Homo sapiens: one gene and its partners. The protein of the gene in region 2 interacts with the protein of the main gene of each other region in a biochemical or structural test. Each region holds a gene or a part of one and is shown on either strand. Other genes may lie near its edges.

Region 1 (7,028 bases), on a different chromosome or scaffold from region 2:
AATGTGTGATGCCTACGTTACTGATTTTCCACTTGTGAGTCTCTTCTTTTATTTAAAATACAGTGATATATTCTCACTTATTAAAGACTAAATTTTTTAAAACTTAAAGTTGATGGTAAATATAAAGGAAATATATATATTTATATATGTGTATATATTTATAGTTTAGTAACACTGATCATAATATTTACTAATTGCCAAAATACCTTAAGTTTATGAGATTTAGAAATGTCTAAAGTTCACTCAGGAAGGATGCCTCTAATTTCTTATATCCTAAACACGAGAGCCAATGTGAAGGAATAAAATGTGCTATAAATATGTCAAGAATAATTTCCTTTTAAACAGTTATAACTTATATTGGAAACAGTAGTTTTTAAGTCTTGTTAAGGTATGGTCATATGCTGGAATAATAGAAATCTAGTTCTGCTCTTTTCAAACATTTAGGTTTGATAGTTATTTTACGTTGGTCTAAAGAAGCCAGTAAATAGTACCCCTCTTTCCTACATGAGTGTGACAAACTGAGAAGCAAGCAAGGAGTAAGACAAGCAGAAACCCAAAATATCACTTTGATTACTGATAGAGGCTTTGTGGAGGATATTGCTTCATGTCAGAGTAAATGGTCTAGCACCAAACCCCAGAATTGAGTGGCCACCCCACACCTCCAGTCTCAGCAGTACGGAGCCCAGATAGGCTTCCTGAGGTACTGAGCAAGCTGGGGGCCTGTGGGCTTCTCACTGGAGCAGCAGAACCCTTACTCTTGGCCATTGGGTTGGCTCTAAAAGAAGAAAAAGGAAAAGGCTGTTTATTTATCCTTCTTAAATATTCTAATCATATAAATTTCCCTGCACCTTCCCAAAAGTGATGATTAAGAGGAGAGAATCCAGGAGTCAAACACTAATGGGGCTCTCTCTGCTTAAGAGGAAACTTGAGTAGCTCAAGAAGCATTTCTAGGAATCATTTGAAAGGAAGCTCTTTCAGAGCTCACTTTACTTTTTAGATGGCTTAGTACAGAATTGAGAATTCCTATTATAACCATAGATTGTTGTTTTCATTGTTTAGTCCTGGATAATTTTGGGATTACCAAAATTCACGAGAGGCCAGAATTCACGAGAGGATAGTATCAGTTAAGATGTCTTATGTACTAGATTATATTGTGGCTTTCATTGATTTCATTATTAACAGTCCCTAATTTTTTTTTTTACAGGATCTAGATATTGATCCAAAAGATGCAAATAAAGGCACACCTGAAGAAACTGGCAGCTACTTGGTATCAAAGGATCTTCCCAAGCATTGCCTCTATACCAGACTCAGTTCACTGCAAAAATTAAAGGTTACTACCTTTTCTGTTTATAGCTACTAATGGAAAACTTTATGAAACTGGAAACTTATTTTGGCATAGACCATAGATATGCTGCCTTATTATTAAAGTAGAGATAACCAGTCTACAGAAGGTCCTATCAGTGACCCTTTTTATATTCTGTTTCCGATGGTGACCAGAGGACTTTATGTGTGCTTACCCTCCAGAATGCTAAAAAATTAGTAACATTAGAGTATATTCTTTTTTCTTTTTTTAGAGACAGAGTCTTAACTCTGTCACCCAGGCTGGAGTGCAGTGGCATGAACATGACCTACTATAACCTCAAACTCCTCAGTGCATATGATCCTGCCACCTCAGCTTCCCAAGTATCTGAGTCTACAGGCACATGCCACTACACCCAGCTAATTTTTTAAAACTTTTTGTGGAGAAGGGATCTCACTATATTGCCCAGGCCAATCTCAAACTCCTGGCCTCAAGAATCCTCCCTTCTTGGTCTCCCAAAGCACTCGGAGTACAGGTGTGAGCTTCCACTCCCAGCTCCATATTCTACTTTTAAATATGTTCAGATTTTCAAGTAATCATTTCCTAGTTCTATGACTAGACATATAGCAAATTAGAATTTTTTTTCCATTTTTTTATTTCTAGTTGACTTACAAATGAGAAGCTAGTTCTGCACATTGAGTGTTCTAATGAAAGCTTTTAATTTGTTCACAACTACATGACCATAGAATGTATCAGCTAAAACTCAGGGAATGGAATGGGCATGATTGAGAATTACACACATAAACCTGTTGTCATCCTGTTCGGAGCTCATCTACTTAAAATCCTTTCTTCTCTTAAAAAGTTAGCCCATTATCTGATTCAGTTATATTTTCCACCTACGATTATGGATTACTATAATATTTTAAAAACAGCTTAAGCTTTTTTTATAAAACTGGTATAAAACCAGGTTTTTTTTTTTGTTTTGAGATGGTGTCTCTCTCTGTCGCCTAGGTTGGAATGCAGTGGCGCGATCTCAGCTCACTGCAACCTCCACCTCCCAGACTCAAGTGATTCTTGTGCCTCAGCCTCCCGAGTAGCCAGGACTACAGGCGCACACCACCATGCCCAGTTAATTTTTTGTATTTTTAGTAGAGACAGGTTTCACCACGTTGGCCAGACTGGTCTTGAACTCCTAACTTCAAGTGATCCATCTGCGTCATCCTCCCAAAGTGCTGGGATTATAGGCGTGAGCCACCACGCCGGGCCCAGATCATTTTTTAATTAAAAGTTAATACCCCATCTCTAATAATAGGGAAGGGTAAGTTTCCTAAGCTGCACTGCTTGGAAAATGTTTTCCCTGTTCATCTAGAGTGTAAGAAAGATCTCTTTGACTTTGACTACTAACAGTAGTAAGAACTAGAAATTCTAAATGGGTTGTAAGTATTGCATGAAGGAAAAGGAAGATAATGATAGCTGGCGTTTCTCAGTTTCAGGGAGATATAAAGGATGCCTTGAGGATTTGGAACCTGGGAAAGGAGAGTGAGTGGATTTTTGGGGGTGGGGGTGTGTATGTGTGAATATTTTCAGATTGATATATATTCACTGTTGATGCCAATAATAAACCAGATTTTTTTCCTTTTCAGGAACATCTAGTCTTCACAGTATGTTTATCATATCAGTACTCAGGATTGGAAGATACTGTAGAGGACAAGCAGGAAGTGAATGTTGGGAAACCTCTCATTGCTAAATTAGACATGCATCGAGGTTTGGGAAGGAAGACTTGCTTTCAAACTTGTCTTATGTCTAATGGTCCTTACCAGAGTTCTGCAGCCACCTCAGGAGGAGCAGGGCATTATCACTCATTGCAAGACCCATTCCATGGTGTTTACCATTCACATCCTGGTAATCCAAGTAATGTTACACCAGCAGATAGCTGTCATTGCAGCCGGACTCCAGATGCATTTATTTCAAGTTTCGCTCACCATGCTTCATGTCATTTTAGTAGAAGTAATGTGCCAGTAGAGACAACTGATGAAATACCATTTAGTTTCTCTGACAGGCTCAGAATTTCTGAAAAATGACCTCCTTGTTTTTGAAAGTTAGCATAATTTTAGATGCCTGTGAAATAGTACTGCACTTACATAAAGTGAGACATTGTGAAAAGGCAAATTTGTATATGTAGAGAAAGAATAGTAGTAACTGTTTCATAGCAAACTTCAGGACTTTGAGATGTTGAAATTACATTATTTAATTACAGACTTCCTCTTTCTAAGATTTTGTGAATTGGTTGAATAGTTCTATACAAATGAAGTATGGAGGTGTGTATGTTTATATGTATATAACAAAATATTTTCATTGTGACCACTCTGAAGTAAGAGCAATGGGAATGGCATTATTGTAGAATAAGTCATTGTATTTTTAACACCAGAAAGAACCTTGCCGATCACCAGGCATAACCTAATTTTATCCATGGAAGAAACACAGAAAGGCATCTAAGTTAGAGCTGGCACCAGAACTGAGACCTCCAGAAATCTATTCCAGTATTTTTTCCACTACACAACTGCCTTCCTGACAGGTTCTGAGATAAGTGTTATGTTTGTAGATAGAGTGAAATATATTTATATATATATAAATATATACAGATACATATCTGTGTATTATCTCAAGGAATGTACAAACTTTAGTTTTTGATTATAAGGACTTCACTGCAAGTTTTAGTTAAGAGGTTTGTATATAAATCTGTTATAGAACAGGCTGAAATTTCTTGTTCATAAGATTATGAAACCACATGAGAAGTGATAAAATGTTTGTTAAAGCTAGATAGAGGTTAAGAATCAAGATATAATGGATAATTTTCATAGCTGCCTATCAGAATTTCCCAAATATTTAGCATCTTCCTTGATAATATGTATTTTCTTCTTGAATTTCACTGGCCTAATGAGATAATACTCTTATCTTTGGCTCTACCTAAAAGTTGGTTAAAAATGCAATTGGCATTAACAAGGAAAAATACTGAATTAGTAATTTTAAAAGTCTCACAAAGAAAATCCCAGGCCTAGATGGCTGCATTGTTGAATTCTGCCAAACATTAAAATTAGCACTAATTTTTTGCACACTGTTTCTAAAAGTAGGAGAGGAAAGAACACTTCCCAACTTACTCTAGGTCAGTATTACCCTGATACTAGACTAGACATCACAAGAAAACTATAAGCCAATATTCCTTATTAATACAAACACAAAAATCATTAACAAAAATATTAGCAAACTGAATCCAGCAACCTATAAAAAGGATTCTATATCATGACCAAGTGGAATTTATCCCAGGAATTCAAGGTTGGTTCAACATCTAAAAATCAAATAAGCTAATATACAGTCAGTTCTCATTATTCACAGTAATTATGTTCTACAGAATATTCTCCCATAAACACTGAATTAAATATGGAACAACTGCTTTTAGGAGAAAGTGTATTTGTGTATATGTGTGTATACATATGTTTATCTCACACACATTATGAGCTTGAATTCTTAATTCATCCTAGCAAATTCTACCTTATTTTACAGAAGTGAAAGTGAGGTATCAGAAGTGTTAAGTGACATGCCTGAGGCACCCCCCTAACAGGTGTCAGAGCTGAAATTCAAACCCCATCCAGCTGGCCCCGGAGCCAGAGCTTCTTGTACTACACAGAATTGCCCCTGCCATTTCCACCCTCCAGTCATTTCTCTATGAGACTGAAGCAGGAAGGCAGAGCATCATCTTGTTCAGCCTCAGCTGGGAACATGTGTACTGGGTGACTCAAATTTTTCACCCATTTACACATATCCACAAATGACTGCAAAAGTGCCACGGATATCAATTTGAGGGTTATAAATTTTAGCAAGTTGGTAAATTCACAAATACATAACCTTGAATAATGAGGATCAACTGTACCATATTTAATAAAGCACAAAACCCACACAGATTGTCTTATTACAGCATTTGATAAAATCCAAAACTCTTTCATAAAAACACTCAACAAACTTAGGAATAAAAGGAATCTTCCTAGATATGATAAATATAACATCTATGAAAAGCCCACACCTAACATTATACTTCATGGTGATAGACTGAAGGCTGAATGTTTTCCCCTTAAGATTGGGAAGAAGGACAAGGATGTTCACTCGGCACTACTTCTATTCAGCATTGTACTTGAAGTTCTAGCCACAGCAGTTAGGTTAGGAATTCAAGGTTTGTTCAACATCTAAAAATCAAATAAGCTAATAAAGAAAAGAGGTTTATACTGCAAAAGAAGTGAAACTATATGTATTCACAGTTGATACATAGTTGTATATAGAAAATGCTAAAGAATCCATAAAAAGTAATAAATGAGTTCAACAGGTTGCAGGATACAAGATCAGTTTTATTTCTCTACTAACAGCAAACATTCTGAAAATGAGAATAAAGAAATCCTATATACAGTAGCATCAAGAATAAAACTCCAACACGTTTAAAGAAATTAAGATCCAGATAAATGGAAAGACATCCATGTTCATGGATTGGAAGACTGAATATTGGTAAGATGGCAATGCTGCCCAAATTAGTCTACATATTCAACAATTCCTATCAAAATCCTAGCTGTATTTTTTGCAGAAATTGACAAACTGGTAAAATTGGTAGGGAAACGCAGGGGACCCAGAATAGCCAAAAAACCTTGGAAAAGAACAAAGTTGGAAGACGTACCAATTTCAAAAAGTGCTACCAAGCTACAATAAGACAGTGTAGGCATATGGATAGACATATCGATCAGAGGAATGGAACTGAACATCCAGAAATAAACCCATACATTTCTGGTCAACTTGTTTTCAACAAGGATGCCAATACCATCAATAGAGAAGGAGTGGTCTTTTCAACAAACGGTGCTGGGACAACTAACTGGTAGCTACGTGCACAGCAAAAGGATCCCTACCTTCCTACCACATTACAAATTCTAACTCAAAATGGATCATAGACCTCAATATAAGAGTTTAAACTCTTAGAAGAAAACAGAAGTAAATCTTTGTGATGTTGGGCTTAGGAATGGTTTCTTAGACATAATACCAAAAGCACAAGCAACAAAGGCAAACAGTAGATAAATGGGACTTCATCAAAATTAACTTTAGCGCCTTAAAGGACACCATTAAGAAAGTGAAGTTAACCCTCAGAATGGGAGAAAAATTTTTGAAAAATCATGTATCTGATAAAAAAACAAACAAACATGCAGGTGCTCAGCTGTGGTTACCACCGAGCAGCACTGTCCAGTGAACTTGCTGTGATGATGGGATGCTTGGTATCCGCACTCCCAGTGTGATAGCCTTTAGCCTCATGGGGTTGTTGAGCAGTTGAAATAATAGCTAGTGTGAGGAACTGAACATAAAATTTTAGTTTTAGGATGGGTGTGGTGGCTCACGCCTATAATCTCAGCACTTTGGGAGGCCAATGAAGGCGGATCACTTGAGCCCAGGAGTTCAAGACCAGCTTGACCAAGATGGCAAAACCCTGTCTCTATTAAAAATACAAAAAAATTAGCTGGGCATGGTGGCACACACCTGTAATCCCAGCTACTAGGGAGGCTGAGGCAGGAGAATCGTACTTCCCCTTTATACTCTTCTGTATATTTGATTTTTTTTTTTTTAAGACAGAGTCCTGGCTCTGTCGCCCAGGCTGGAGTGCAGCGACATAGTCTCAGCTCACTGCAGCATCCGTGGAGGCTGA
Region 2 (7,028 bases):
AAAAAAAAAAAAAAATTAAAAGATCTGTTACAAATAAGACAAATGTTAACATTTGACAAAGCTAGGTGAAGGACACATAGATGCTGGTTCTATCATTCTCTAAAACTTCTATTATGTTAGAAACATTTCTTTTAAAAACAAAAAAATAAATTTATAGTTAAGTGCAACAAAAGAATAAGAGTGACTCTAACAGAGCAATAGAAGGGACATAATTCAAGTTGGAACATCAATAAAGATACTAAAAAGTGGAATTTAGGCTGGGTGCGGTGGCTCATGCCTGTAATCCCAGCACTTTGGGAGGCCAACGCGGGTCAGGAGTCTGAGACCAGCCTGGCCAACATGGCAAACCCCCATCTGTATTAAATTAGCCAGGTGTTGTGGCACACACTTGTAGTCCCAGCTACTTGGGAGGCTAAGGCAGCAGAATCACTTAAACCCAGGAGATGGAGGTTGCAGTGAGCGAGATCATGCCACTGCACTCCAGCCTGAGTGACAGAGTGAGACTCTGTCTCAATAAAAAAGAAAGTGGAATTTACAGTGAGAAATGAAGGACCCATAGGAGTTAGCCAGACTGGGGAGGAAGGAGGAAGAACAGAAGTGCAAAGGTCTTGAGACCAAACGAAAGGCATGCAGGCCAGTGTGCACCTTGAGCACTCCCAGTGAGCCATGGCAAGAAGCATGCATGCTGAGGCTGATGCCCCTAAAGGAATCTGAAGTGCAGAAATGACACGACGCAATTTGTCTCTTAGGAGGATCCCTCTGGCTGCTAACTTTGGAAAGACTGGAAGGGATTTTAAAAAGTAGAATCAGAGACGTTGTTGCAAGAGTCCAGGAAATAAATGATGGCCAATATTCACTTGGTGGCAATGTAAATAGAAAAATAAGACCTAAATCCAGTCACATTTGGAACATAAAACTGACAAGGCTTAATGATAAATGGGTTGGGGGAAGGGAGGTAGAGAGGGAGGCAAAATATCAACTACTGGACCAAAAGCCCAAGAGATCAGATAAGCTTATTAGAGGTAGGTCTGAAATTTAATCTAAATTTCCTAGCTTCCATGACAATGTAGAACACACCATTAGTTACTTAATTTACAGAAGCTATAATGTAAAAACAAAACAGTAGTGGAGAAAACCAGATATGTCTAGTAGCAAAATCTAACAAAGGTCTTCTTCATAAAGGCAATGCTGTGTGTCACACAGGACATTCCCTAAATAATATCTTTTCTGTGTACTCATATGCTTTATAATCCTGCTCCTATCAAATTTCTTAAAAATAGATAAGTGTGCATAATTTCTAGAATAATCACTGAAAGAACACAAACAGAATGAAAGAAGTTGAGAACAACCATTCCAAAAGTAGGCAAGAAACATGTAGAAAAATAGAAACCACCAAATAAGATGATCTGTTTAAACCTGAACATGTCAGTAATTAAGAATATTAAATGTAAATGGACTAAATGCTCCCAGTAAATCACAAAGACTGACCAACTGAGGACTGTGAGGGCTGGAGAGACTCTCAGGTCCCAGCTCTGAGTTGGCACAGGGGTGGGGGGGTGTTAATGGCCCAGCAGGTGCAGGGCTAAGGTTTCCAATGACCTTTCCCAGCTTCTTCCTTTCTCAGGGTCATGCTTTATTTGGCCTGGTGCCTCCCTGCTGGATGCACCAGCCAATCTGGGGCCCCGCCTCAGACCTGCGTATTAGGTTGGGGTTGAGGGGCAGGGAGCTGGCTGTGAATCCAAGATTCAACTTGTTGCCAGAAGTACAGTTATATGAAGGGGAAATTGAGCAAATAAGTAAATGCACTGGGAAGCATGGGAGCCAGGTTTCTCAACTGGAAAGGAAGAATCATAGAACAAACCCTATAGTTTTAGAATAAAATTAGTGGGAGTTGTTAGTATAAACTCGTGATTTTTAACAGATGGTAAACAGATGAGAAGGAAAGAGAGAAGGAGAGAAGAAAGGAGGATGAATTTGTGTACATATGTGATACATTTGTAGTACAAAATACACTGGTAGAGAGAGGGAACGCAGGGATGGGATGAGAAATCAAGGATACTGAGGCCCTATTTCCTAAGATGGATGATACTCATTTTATGATGATGATATGTTATTTTGCTTCCTAAAATGTATTTTGTATGTGGCGTGCTCTCAACATGGCACCAAGAGAGCCTAGGCTTCAAAGACTTATCATGAACTTAACAATCTACTCATACTGGAAATTCAGCTGTTTCTACTAACTAACTTGTGTGGGTCAAGCAGGGCATGTCATTTTGTTTAAAGAGACAATGGGCTGGACACAGTGGCTCACGCCTGTAATCCCAGCACTTTGGGAGGCCAAGGTGGGCAGATCACTTGAGGTCAGGAGTTGAGTCCAGCCTGGCCAACATGACGAAACCCCATCTCTACCAAAAAATACAAAAATTAGATGGGCTTGGTGGCATGTGCCTTGTAGTCTCACATACTTGGGAGGCTGAAGTGGGAGAATCACTTGAGGCCACAGGAAGTGGGGGAGTACCACTGCACTACAGCCTGGGGGACAGAGTGAAACCCAAAAATAAATAGACAATGATGCTCAGCCATGACTGTTTCAACACAGACATATTTGCTCTTTAAAGAAAAAAACCCTTCATGAATATTCATCCTTTTCATGAACAGTCATCCTTTTAATCCCACCAAATGTACCTTAACCCTCAGAAAAGTAACATTCAAAGAGAAATAATGATCATCTCTTTTTTTTTTTTTTTTTGAGACGGAGTTTCGCTCTTTCACCCAGGCTGGAGTGCAGTGGCACAATCTCTACAAGCGTGAGCCACCATGCCCCGCCCAATAATGGTCATCTTTTTACCAAATAAAGATCAACTGAAATATGACTATTAAGGCAATTAAAACCCTAAGAAAACTTTTGGCCAGGCACAGTGGCTCATACCTGTAATCCCAGCACTTTGGGAGGCCGAGCCGGGCGGATCAACTAAGGTCAGGAGTTCGAGACCAGCCTGGCCATTGTGAAACCCCGTCTCTACAAAAATACAAAAATTAACTGGGCATGATGGCAGGTGCCTGTAATCCCAGCTACTCGGGAGGTTGAGGCAGGAGAATCACTTGAAGCCGGGAGGCAGAGGTTGCAGTGAGCCAAGATCGCACAATTGTACTCCAGCCTGGGTGACAGAGTGAGACTCTGTTTCAAAAAAAAAAGAAAAGAAAAAAAAAGTTTTAACCACCACATGCATCTATTCTAGGCAAGTACATTAAGGTTTTTAAGGATGGCCTAATTTATATTAATAAAAGAAAAACAACATAATGCAACCTTCTTTAGACTTTTGGCTTAACAAAGGTCCTCTTTTAAAAACTTTCTCCTAACTACATATTAATATCTTACATATATTATGGTGTGTGTACGTATAATATATAACTCTATACATTATGTTATATAAAACCAAAATGACTATATTAACTTACCATCCCACTGGAATTATTTATTCCGTTCATATTAATTTTTGTTACAAATCTAACTGACGGAGGAGCTTCTGGGTATTTAGGTCCACATTCTACTTTCAGGCTATATATTCTGTTTTCATAATTTGTCTGGAAGGCAAAAAACAAAAAGATAATCAAAATAACAATACCTAAAATATTAATGTCTAAGTGCTAAAAAAAAAAAAGGGAAAGTACAATATGAATGTACGTAAGACAGTGTTTATGATTAAGAATTTATTTTTCTACATTCAAATTTATTTCACCTATATGGTGAGAAAAAATGCAATAAGCATACTTAAAAATTGAGATTTTACAAAATTAATTCCATGAGATTTTACAAAATTAATTCTACAAAGTATTATCAATATGATCCCAAGTTGCTTTTGTGATAAAAATGATGCCTGTAACAAATTAGAACGAAGAAGGAAAAACGAAAAAGCAAACCACTTAAATTTAGATTTTGCTAAAAAGTTTACATTGTAGAGGGAGGGGCTACTTGAGACTTGTGTTAAACATATATGAAGGTTTCTGTTTTACAGAACAGTTCTGCTTATTCCTATTGTCCCAGAATTGACTATTAACAGTGCCTCCTTTCATTCTCAAAAGGGTCTTGTTGGATAACAAATTATATGATTATCCTACTAAATATGGCAATCAATAACTTCTAGCAAAAGAGAAAACCCCATATTATACTATTTTGCAGCAATAAAACATAATTATTTTATGTCCCCTGTTAGTTATACTTACGTTGCCACTTCATTAATTTTGAGGTTCATTAAATCCCATTATCTGAATTCAGAGATACAATGGCAAACTTTATGTTTACACATCATTTTCAAATAGGTATCAAACTTAAAGCTTCTAGATTATCCAGGGCTTATTTTCATGCCTATAAATTAACTCTTCTTTCTGCTATGGCTTTTGTTCACTCTGTTAACTTATTAGTGTACCATTAAAACAGCAAAGTAAAAAATAAATGAATCCTCACCTTGACTCAAGAGATTAAAAAGAAAAAAAAATTGTTTTAAAGAGAATTATAATTATTGAAACTTTAAATTTTCTAAATTATAATTAAAATAACATAAAAATATATACATAAATAAATGAAAGTGAAAAATTTAATATCTGCTGGCTGCTGTATAAGACCAGAGAGGGAGGAAGCTAACCAACCATCTACAGATCTCACCTACTCAAACTGATCCCATCCCCATAAACAAGAGCTATCCAAATGGAGGTCAGATTTGCAGTATTAAACTACTCTAATGTAAAACCTATGCAACAATGTTATATGTATGTTATTAAATATTTCAATACTTTAAGAAAAAAAGAGCTATATAAAACTCATCTGAGATTAATAGCAAGCAAATATTAATAATATCCCCAGCACTTTCAATATATAAAAATGACTAAAATCAGATAGATCTCATGATTATCTTGGCTGTGATTCTCCAATCTGGATGCATATCAGACTCCCCTATGATACAGCAATTCTATTCCTAGGCATTTACCCAAGCGAAATGGAAACAAACACATGTTCACAAAAAGACTTCTACAAGAATGCCCATAGCAGCTTTATTTGTAAAAGCAAGAAAGTAGATTAAATCCAAATGTCCATAAAAAGAAGTGATAAACACATTGTGGTATATCCATACAGTAAAATACTATTCAACAATAAAAAGAAACACACTCCTACTACATGAGATAACACAACTGAATTGCTCAGACTTCATGCTGAGTAAAGAACCGTAAGTGTACACACTACATGACCCTACTTACCAAAGCTCTACAACACGCAAATCTCTCAGGTGTGGGAAAGCGCAAAGGGAGCTTTCTGGAATGACAGGAATGTTCTGTATCTCAGTAGGGGTAACAAGCTACATTTGTCAAACTCATGGCACATCTGTGCATTTCACTACATGTAAATTCTACCTCAATTCCTTTTGTTTAAAAAAAAAAAAAAAAAAACCCAAAGCTCTTTTCTGAAAGATTTTATGTAAACAAAAAAAAATTTAATCCCAAAGCTAGCCTATTAATCTAATCCAATTCTTACAGTAAATATCACCCTAACTTCTGACACCTTTGATTTTATCCCCTCTAAATTTTAAATTAACAGGCTGGGTGTGGTGGCTCATGCCTGTAATCCCAGCCCTTTGGGAGGCCAAAGGCGGGCAGACTGCCTGAGGTCAGGAGTTCGAGACCAGCCTGGCCAACATGGTGAAACCCCGTCTCTATTAAAAATACAAAAATTGGTAGCACACGCCTGTAATCCCAGCTAGTCGGGAGGCTGAGGCAGGAGAATCACCTGAACTCGGGAGGTGGCAACTGCAGTGAGCTGAGATCACGCCACTGCACTCCAGCCTGGGTGGCAAAGCAAGACTGTCTCAAAAAAAAAAAAAATTTTAATTAACAGTCAAGTTTTTCTGTTATCTAATAAAAAGCAAGAGCAAAAAAAAGAGGAGAAAAACAAACTAATATTTACTAAGTCAAGTACTCAGGTATTCTCCTATTATCTAATCATTATTTCACTTAATTCTCACACTGTTTCTATTTTAAAGATGGGGACAGTACCTTCATTAAATATGAGAAAACTTGAAAAAGTACTAAACTCTAGTGACAACAAATATTGCTTCAGAAAACTGAACACAAAAACATAGAAAAACAAAACTGCTAATCATATAAATCCAAATAAATACTAGAACAACATAAAAAATGAGGGATCTGGCTGGACATGGTGGCTCACACCTGTAATCCTAACACTTTGGGAGGCCGAAGGGAGTGGATCACCTGAGGTTGGGAGTTCGAGACCAGCTTGACCAACATGGAGAAACCCCATCTCTACTAAAAATACAAAATTAGCCGGGCATGGTGTCGCATGCCTGTAATCCCAGCTACTCAGGAGCCTGAGGCAGGAGAATCACTTGAACCTGGGAGGCAGAGGTTGCGGTGAGCCCGAGATAGTGTCACTGAACTCCAGCCTGGGCAACAAGAGCAAAGCTCCATCTCAAAAAAAAAAAAAAAGAGGGACCTTAGTCAATAAAGTACAAAAAATAAAAAACAACTGGCCAGGCACAGTGGTTCACGCCTATAATCCTAGCACTTTGGGAGGCCACGGCAGGTGGGCCATTTGAGCCCAGGAGTTTGAGACCCGTCTGGGCAACACAGTGAGACCCCCATCTCTACACACACACACACACAAATTAGCCAGGTATGGTGGTGTACCCCTATAGTCCCAGCTACTCAGAAGGCTAAGGTGGGAGGATTGTTTGAGCCCAGGGGGTCCAGGCTGTGAGGTGTGATCGGGCCACTACACTCCAGCCTGGTTGACAGAGTGAGACTATCTCAAAATAAAATAAAATAAAAATAAAAAACAACGAACCATGTAACATGTTAAAAGTCTTCCTCCTCTCAACCGGGCACGGCGGCTCACGCCTGTAATCCTAGCACTTTGCGAAGGCCGAGGTGGGCGGATCATCTGAGGTCGGGAGTCTGAGACCAGCCTGAGCAACATGGAGAAACCCTGTCCCCACTAAAAATACAAAATTAGGCCAGAC
Region 3 (7,028 bases), on a different chromosome or scaffold from region 2:
GTCACAAAGCTAAAAGGTAGCAGAGCTAGGATCTGAACCCACACAGGGTGGTTCCTGAGCCTCAATTCTCCAGAATATAAAAGTCAGGGAATAAGGCATTTATAAGTCAGGATGGAACTAGGTAAGAAAAATATATCCAGCCTTCAACTCATGCCATTCTGATTCTACTTTATTAAAAACTGTATGATTTAACTTAAATATTATGATGTATATTTTTAAAAACTGAAGGAGGGTAACACAATAAAGAATGGTAGAATGAGGACTTTCAAAAATTCCTCAATAAAGGCAACAAAAAAACTAGATAAATTATTTGTCAGAATCAAATGTTTCAGAACACTGAGAACTAAATCAAAGGCTTGCAGAAATCTGGGTAACATTTATTCAAGAATAAAAAGAATAAACAGCTGAATATCAGTACTTCAGTCCCATCCCCAGCAATCCTGTAGCCTTTAAAAATAGCTCACGGCCAGGCACAGTAGCTCACGCCCCCAGCACTTTGGGAGGCCGAGGTGGGAAGATCACGAGGTCAAGAGATCAAGACCATCCTAGCCAACATGGTGAGACCCCCGTCTCTACTAAAAATACAAAAATTAGCTGGGTGTGGTGGCACGCGCCTGTAGTCCTAGCTACTCGGGAGGCTGAGGCAGGAGAACCACTTGAACCCGGCAGGCAGAGGTTGCAGTGAGCCAAGATAGTGCCCCTGCACTCCAGCCTGGTGACAGAGCGAGACTTCATCTCAAAATAAATAAATAAATAAATAAATAAATAAATAAATAAATAAATAAAAATAATAGCTTGTTGGGATCCTAGGTAAAGCCTGGCAGTCACCAGAAAAAAAGAGAATGGAGTTACAGTTCTTTCAGAGATTCATTCCCAAAGAACTGTTATTCTCCTGAAGTTCCCCGGAAGACCCCACTTGCAAGGCTGACTGTATTTAACCTCTGAGCTCACCAAGTACAAAAAAACCTCCCTTGGGCGGATGTTTGTCAAAACAATTTTACAGGAAAGTGTTTTAACTTCATGGCTACCTGAGGCAGTGGATAACAGCTGAAGCAAAAAAACAAAAAGGCTTATAAAGAAGAGCTAGGGAATGAGATGTCTGTGAGGGCTTTGAAAAGCTCCAGTGTATTTCTGGATATCTAGAAGGCCGTAAGCAAGCACAGGGCTGGTATGCATGACCAGGGCTGTGCACATTCTCAAGAAAGACCTGAGAAGGCCCTAAACGCTCACCTTTGCCTGAACTTGAGCATTTAAACAAGCCAGAAGTGAAAGCTAAAGCAGAGTTGTCAGGGGCCTTAGAGTGTTGAAGGAATGCCCTAACATACAGAAGTTCTCAGCAAAGAATGTACGATTTATTAGTTCCAGCACAATCATCAGCTGACCGCTAAGCTAACCAAGTACAGACTTCAGTGACCACACACGATAAAGGATAGACATCACAGAATTAATTCAGGAAAGTCACTAACAAACACACACTAATTACAAAACTCAGCAACAAACCACCCTAGAAGCCTAACAAACACACACTAATTACAAAACTCAGCAACAACAAACCACCCTGATTTCCAGAGCTGCCACATTATTTAAAATGTCAATTTTTCAAGAAAAAAAGTACAAGACATGCAAAAAAAATAAGAAAGTATGGTCTATACACAGGGAAAAAAAGCAATCAATGTCAACTGTCCCCAAGAAAGTATAGATGTTTGACATAGTAGAAAAAGAATTTAAGTCAGTTATTTTAAATATGTTCAAAGGGGCTGGGCATGGTGGCTCACACTTGTAATCCCAGCACTTTAGGAGGCTGAAGTGTGAGGATCTCTTGAGGCCAGGAATTTGAGACCAGCCTGGGAAACATAGCAAGACCCCATTTCTACAAAATAAAAATAGAAAAATTAGCCAGGTATGGTGGTACATGCCTGTAGTCCCAGCTATTCAGGAGTCTGAGGTGGGAGGACTGCTTGAATGCAGGAGTTCAAGGTTACAGTGAGCTATGATCACGCCACTGCACTCCAGCCTGGGTAATAGAGCAAGAACCTATCTCTAAAAAATTAAAAAGTTCAAAGACCTGGCCGGGCACAGTGGCTCACGCCTGTAATCCCAGCACTTTGGGAGGCCGAGGTGGGCGGATCACGAGGTCAGGAGATCGAGACCATCCTGGCTAACACAGTGAAACCCCGTCTCTACTAAAAATACAAAAAATTAGCCGGGCGAGGTGGCGGGTGCCTGTAGTCCCAGTTACTCGGGAAGCTGACACAGGAGAATGATGTGAACCTGGGAGGCAGAGCTTGCAGTGAGCCGAGATCGTGCCACTGCACTCCAGCCTGGGCGACAAAGCAAGACTCCGTCTCAAAAAAAAAAAAAAATAAGTTCAAAGACCTAAAGCAAATCATTTCTTTCGACATGAAAACGCATGTCTAAAAGCATGGAGACGATGTCTCACCAAACAGCAATTCTAGAGTCAAAAGGTACAATAACTGAAGAAAAAATTCACCAGAGAGACTCAACAGCAAATTTGAGCAGGCATAAGAAAAATCAGCGAAGCTGAAGATAGGTCAATTGAGATTATACAATCTAAGGAACAAAAAAATGACACACAACAGAGCCTCAGAAACTTGTAATATCAAGCATACCAACACACATACATAAGAGTACCATAAGGAGAAAAGAGAAAGGGGCAGAAAAAATATTTAAAGAAATAACAGCCAAAACCTTCCCAATTCGATGGAAACCACTACTCTACACATATAAGAAGCTCAACAACTCCAACTAAAATAAACTCAAAGAGATCCACACCTGGTCACATCATAATCAAACTGTCAAAAGAAGTTTGAGACCAGCCTGGGCAAAAGGGTAACGACAGTTTCTAAAAAAAAAAAAAAAAAAAAAAAAAAAAAAAAAAAAAAATTATTTAAAAAAATAAAAATTTTTAAGTATAATTTTTTGTAATTTTTGTCCTATCTCATTAAAAAGTATATAATTATAAATCTTTGTTGATAGGTATACTACATATATAAAGATATAACTTGGATAACAGCACAAAGGAAGGCAATAGGATGGAGCTGTGAGCAAAGGTTTTTTTGGGGTTTTCTTTGTTGTTGTTTTTTTGAGACAGAGTCTTGCTGTCACCAGGCTGGAGTACAGTCGCACAATCTCGGCTCACTGCAACCTCTGACTCCCTAGTTCATGCGATTCTCCTGCCTCAGCCTCCCAAGTAGCTGGGACTACAGGCAGGTGCCACCATGCCCAGCTAATTTTTGTATTTTTAGTAGAGATGGGGTTTCACCATGTTGGCCAGGATGGTCTCAATCTCCTAACCTCGTGATCCACTCACCTTGGCCTCCCAAAGCGCTGGGATTACAGGCGTGAGCCACCATGCCCCATGCCCAGCCACAAAGTTTTTTATATACTGTTAAGTTGGCACTAATCCAAACTAGGTTCTTATAAATTAAGTTGTTAATTGTAATCCCTAAAGCAATCATAAGTAACTCAAAATATATAGTAAAAGAAACAAGGGAATTAAAATAGTACACTAAAAAAAAAAATCTATTTAACATAAAAATGAGTATTGGAGGCCAGACCCAAATGCCACATATTGTATCATTTCATTTACGTGAAATGTCAAGAGGAGGTAAATCCATATACACAGGAAGAAGACTGATTCATGGTTGCCAGGGACTGAGGGGTAGAGATAATGGGAGTGACTACAAATGGGAATGAGGTTTCTTTTTGGAGTAATGAAAATGTTTTGGAACTAGATTGTAGGGATGGTTGCACAACCTTGTGAGTATTCTAAAAACTACTCAACTGTACACTTTAAAATGGTAAATTTTATAATAAATGTATCTCAATTTTAAAAAATTCCTTGAAAATATACAAGAAAGCTGCTTCAAACCTCTCCCAGCATGTCTACTGACTCAAGAGATTACAGCCAGAACTAAACAGAGTATTAGACAGATATTCATCTCTAGACTTTTAGAGATATTATCTATGAGGCAGAGCTATGTTCTCTCCCAGTCGCCACCCCTCTGCCACTGCCTACAGGATGATCTTTTTTAAACCGGATTATGCAAATCCTAGAAAATACATAACCAAAATAAAAAAGCAGGGCACAAAACTAACAATTTTTGAGCATTTCATCTCAAGGTATTACATAATTGTAATTTATCATAATAAGCTATCATTAATTACAATTAGTTAACTGTCGTTACAAATAAGTAATTACTAGAATTTTAAATAAAATATATATGAGCCAAAATATTGGAGACTATAAAAACAAAAACATGGTCCCAGCAGCAAGAAAAAACAGGACATATAAAAAAACAAAAAGACAAAGACAAGAATAACAAAAGGAATGAGAATTAATCATAACAGTATAGTCATACCCCGCATAACAACATTTCAGCAATGACAGACCACATGCATTATGCAACAGTTGTTCCACAAGATTATAATGGGGCTGCCCTATAGAAGTGTACCATTTTTCATATTTTATACAATATTTTTACTGTACTTTTTTCATGTTATATATGCTTAAATACACAAATGTGTTACAATTGCCCACAGTATTCAGTAAAGTAACATCTTGTTCACTCTGTTTCCACAAAGAAATCACCTAACACTTTTCTCAGAAAGTATCTTCATTGTTAAGCAACACATAACTGTATTTTAAAATAGAAAAAGAAATAAACCACATTATAAAATAAAGCCTTTGATGGGTCAAAAAATAAACTTAACCATATGCTTATTGAAAACACACTAAAAAAAAAAAAACAAAAAATAAAAATGAAATAAGAATAAGAAAACACCAGAGTTAAAAATAAAGAATGCTACTACATAACAAAACGTGGTGGCTAAAGGCAACGCAATACTTAACACGTTTAAAGATTAAAAGATTAAATGACTCAAATTAAGTGCTCAAATCGCAAGTCCAACAGAAATGAAAAGAAAATAAATCTAAGTAGAAAAACCGAATGTAAGAGTAATTATTAAGCCAAGAAACACAATCATTAAGAAAAATTCAAGAGAGCCTGCCTTGAAAAGAAATAATGTCATAGCTAATCAATAAAAAAGACACGAATGTGTAACACAAAGAATAAAAACAGGAATATAATCACCTTTTTAAAAAAGTTTTTAAAAAGTTTAATGGAGCCAATAAGGCATATAAAATTATGTTCTGGCAGACATTAAAAAAATGGCACATTTTATCAAAATTTGACAATTCAGAGTAAAGGGTACTGAAATTTAAGGTTCAGAGCACCAACTTAAAACAACCAAAAAAATGGTTATTCAACTTGGAAAGAGTAACTAGAACCAAGGCATAAAAGGGAGTTTAAGTATGTGTTCCTCCAATTCAAAATCCTTCAGGAATAGGAGTTCTGGCCACTTGTGAGCAACACATCATACCACCAAACCCCAATTCCAGAAAATTACAGTTACAATTTTATAAGGATAAATGATTACTATGCACAATTCTATGGGAATAAGTTTGAATATCTAAATAAAATGGATGCTTTTCTTCAAAAATGTAACTAACCAAAATAGACCAAAGAAGTACCTAAATTATGCTGAGTGAAAAACGCCAGACTTAAAATAGTACATACTGTAGAATTCAATGTATATGAAGTTCTAGAATAGGCAAAACTTATTTATAGTGATAGAAGACTTGTGTGGCCGGGCGCAGTGGCTCACACCTGTAATCCCAGCACTTTGGGAGGCCGAGGCGGGCGGATCACGAGGTCAGGAGATACAGACCATCCTGGCTAACACGGTGAAACCCCGTCTCTACCAAAAATACAAAAAAATTAGCCGGGCATGGTGGCAGGCGCCTGTAGTCCCAGCTACTTGGGAGGCTGAGGCAGGAGAATGGCATGAACTTGGGAGGCGGAGCTTGCAATGAGCCGAGATCCCGCCACTGCGCTCCAGCCTGAGAAACAGAGCGAGACTCCGTCTCAAAAAAAACAAAAAAAAAGAAAAGAAATGAGACTCGTGGCTGCCTAGGGCAGGAACAGGGAAAAATGAATGCAATAGGATACAAGATACTTTGAGGGAGACGGATACAATCTGTATCTTGATTGGGGTAGTAGTTATCAGGTATACATCTTTGTCAAAACACTAGGATCATACATTTAAAATATGTACATTTTATCATACGTAAACCACATCTCAATAAAGTAGAAAAAAAATTAAAATAACAAGTATGCAAAGATAGTATCTCAATTTTTATTATTTTTATAATAGTGATTAACTCAAAAATGTCCATCAACAAGGAAATTATAAGTCCAATATAGATGATATTCCTAATCACATTAGGCATAATATGATCTCATTTTTATTAATACATAATATGATTCCAATTTACATGCACATGCTCACAGAAACAAGTGTAGAAGATAAGTTATGGTTCTGGATGATAGACTTCAGAAGATTTAATGCCTTTTTAGCCATTTAAAAATAATGAACGTGGCTGGGCGCGGTGGCTCATGCCTGTAATCCCAGCACTTTGGAAGGCCGAGGTGAGTGGATCACCTGAGGTCAGGGGTTCAAGACCAGCCTGACCAACATGGCAAAACCTCATCTCTCCTAAATACAAAAAATTAGCTGGGCATGATGGCGCATGCCTGTAATCCCAGCTACTTAGGAGGCTGTTGCAGGAGAACCGCTTGAACCTGGGAGGCGGAGGTTGCAGTGAGCCAAGATTGCACCATTGCACTCCAGCCTGGGCAATGCAAGCAAGACTCCGTTTCAAAAAAAAAACAAAAACAAATAAAAGAACATGCATTAATTATAAAATAAATGATATCTCAACATAGTGTTCCTGGAAAAAAATAAAATTTAAAGTATATATATTTGGCAAAATAAGAAAACTGATGATTACTTTTTATCAACACACACTAGAGTTTACCGAAGTCATAGAGATTATTCTCAGATCAAAAATACTGATTGTTCTAAGATCAATAACTACCATAATCTAGTATTTCATGGTGGTATAAAATAATTATCGAAAGCAATGTAAGTTTTGAAAAATTAGC

The links.
Region 1: the proteins of UBE2V2 (region 2) and MALT1 form a complex in vitro, tested with the Homo sapiens proteins (one study listed by BioGRID).
Region 3: the proteins of UBE2V2 (region 2) and HLTF form a complex in vitro, tested with the Homo sapiens proteins (2 studies listed by BioGRID).

The regions. Positions count from the first base shown.
Region 1 is NC_000018.10:58,744,462-58,751,489, forward strand, and holds part of MALT1 (mucosa-associated lymphoid tissue lymphoma translocation protein 1), read left to right. Parts: coding exon 1-34; intron 35-1,204; coding exon 1,205-1,330; intron 1,331-2,943; coding exon 2,944-3,381; 3' UTR 3,382-7,028. UniProt on the Homo sapiens protein: Protease that enhances BCL10-induced activation: acts via formation of CBM complexes that channel adaptive and innate immune signaling downstream of CARD domain-containing proteins (CARD9, CARD11 and CARD14) to activate NF-kappa-B and MAP kinase p38 pathways which stimulate expression of genes encoding pro-inflammatory cytokines and chemokines.
Region 2 is NC_000008.11:48,046,410-48,053,437, reverse strand, and holds part of UBE2V2 (ubiquitin-conjugating enzyme E2 variant 2), read right to left. Parts: intron 3,586-7,028; coding exon 3,460-3,585; intron 1-3,459. UniProt on the Homo sapiens protein: Has no ubiquitin ligase activity on its own. The UBE2V2/UBE2N heterodimer catalyzes the synthesis of non-canonical poly-ubiquitin chains that are linked through 'Lys-63'. This type of poly-ubiquitination does not lead to protein degradation by the proteasome.
Region 3 is NC_000003.12:149,076,509-149,083,536, forward strand, and holds part of HLTF (helicase-like transcription factor), read right to left. Parts: intron 1-7,028. UniProt on the Homo sapiens protein: Has both helicase and E3 ubiquitin ligase activities. Possesses intrinsic ATP-dependent nucleosome-remodeling activity; This activity may be required for transcriptional activation or repression of specific target promoters.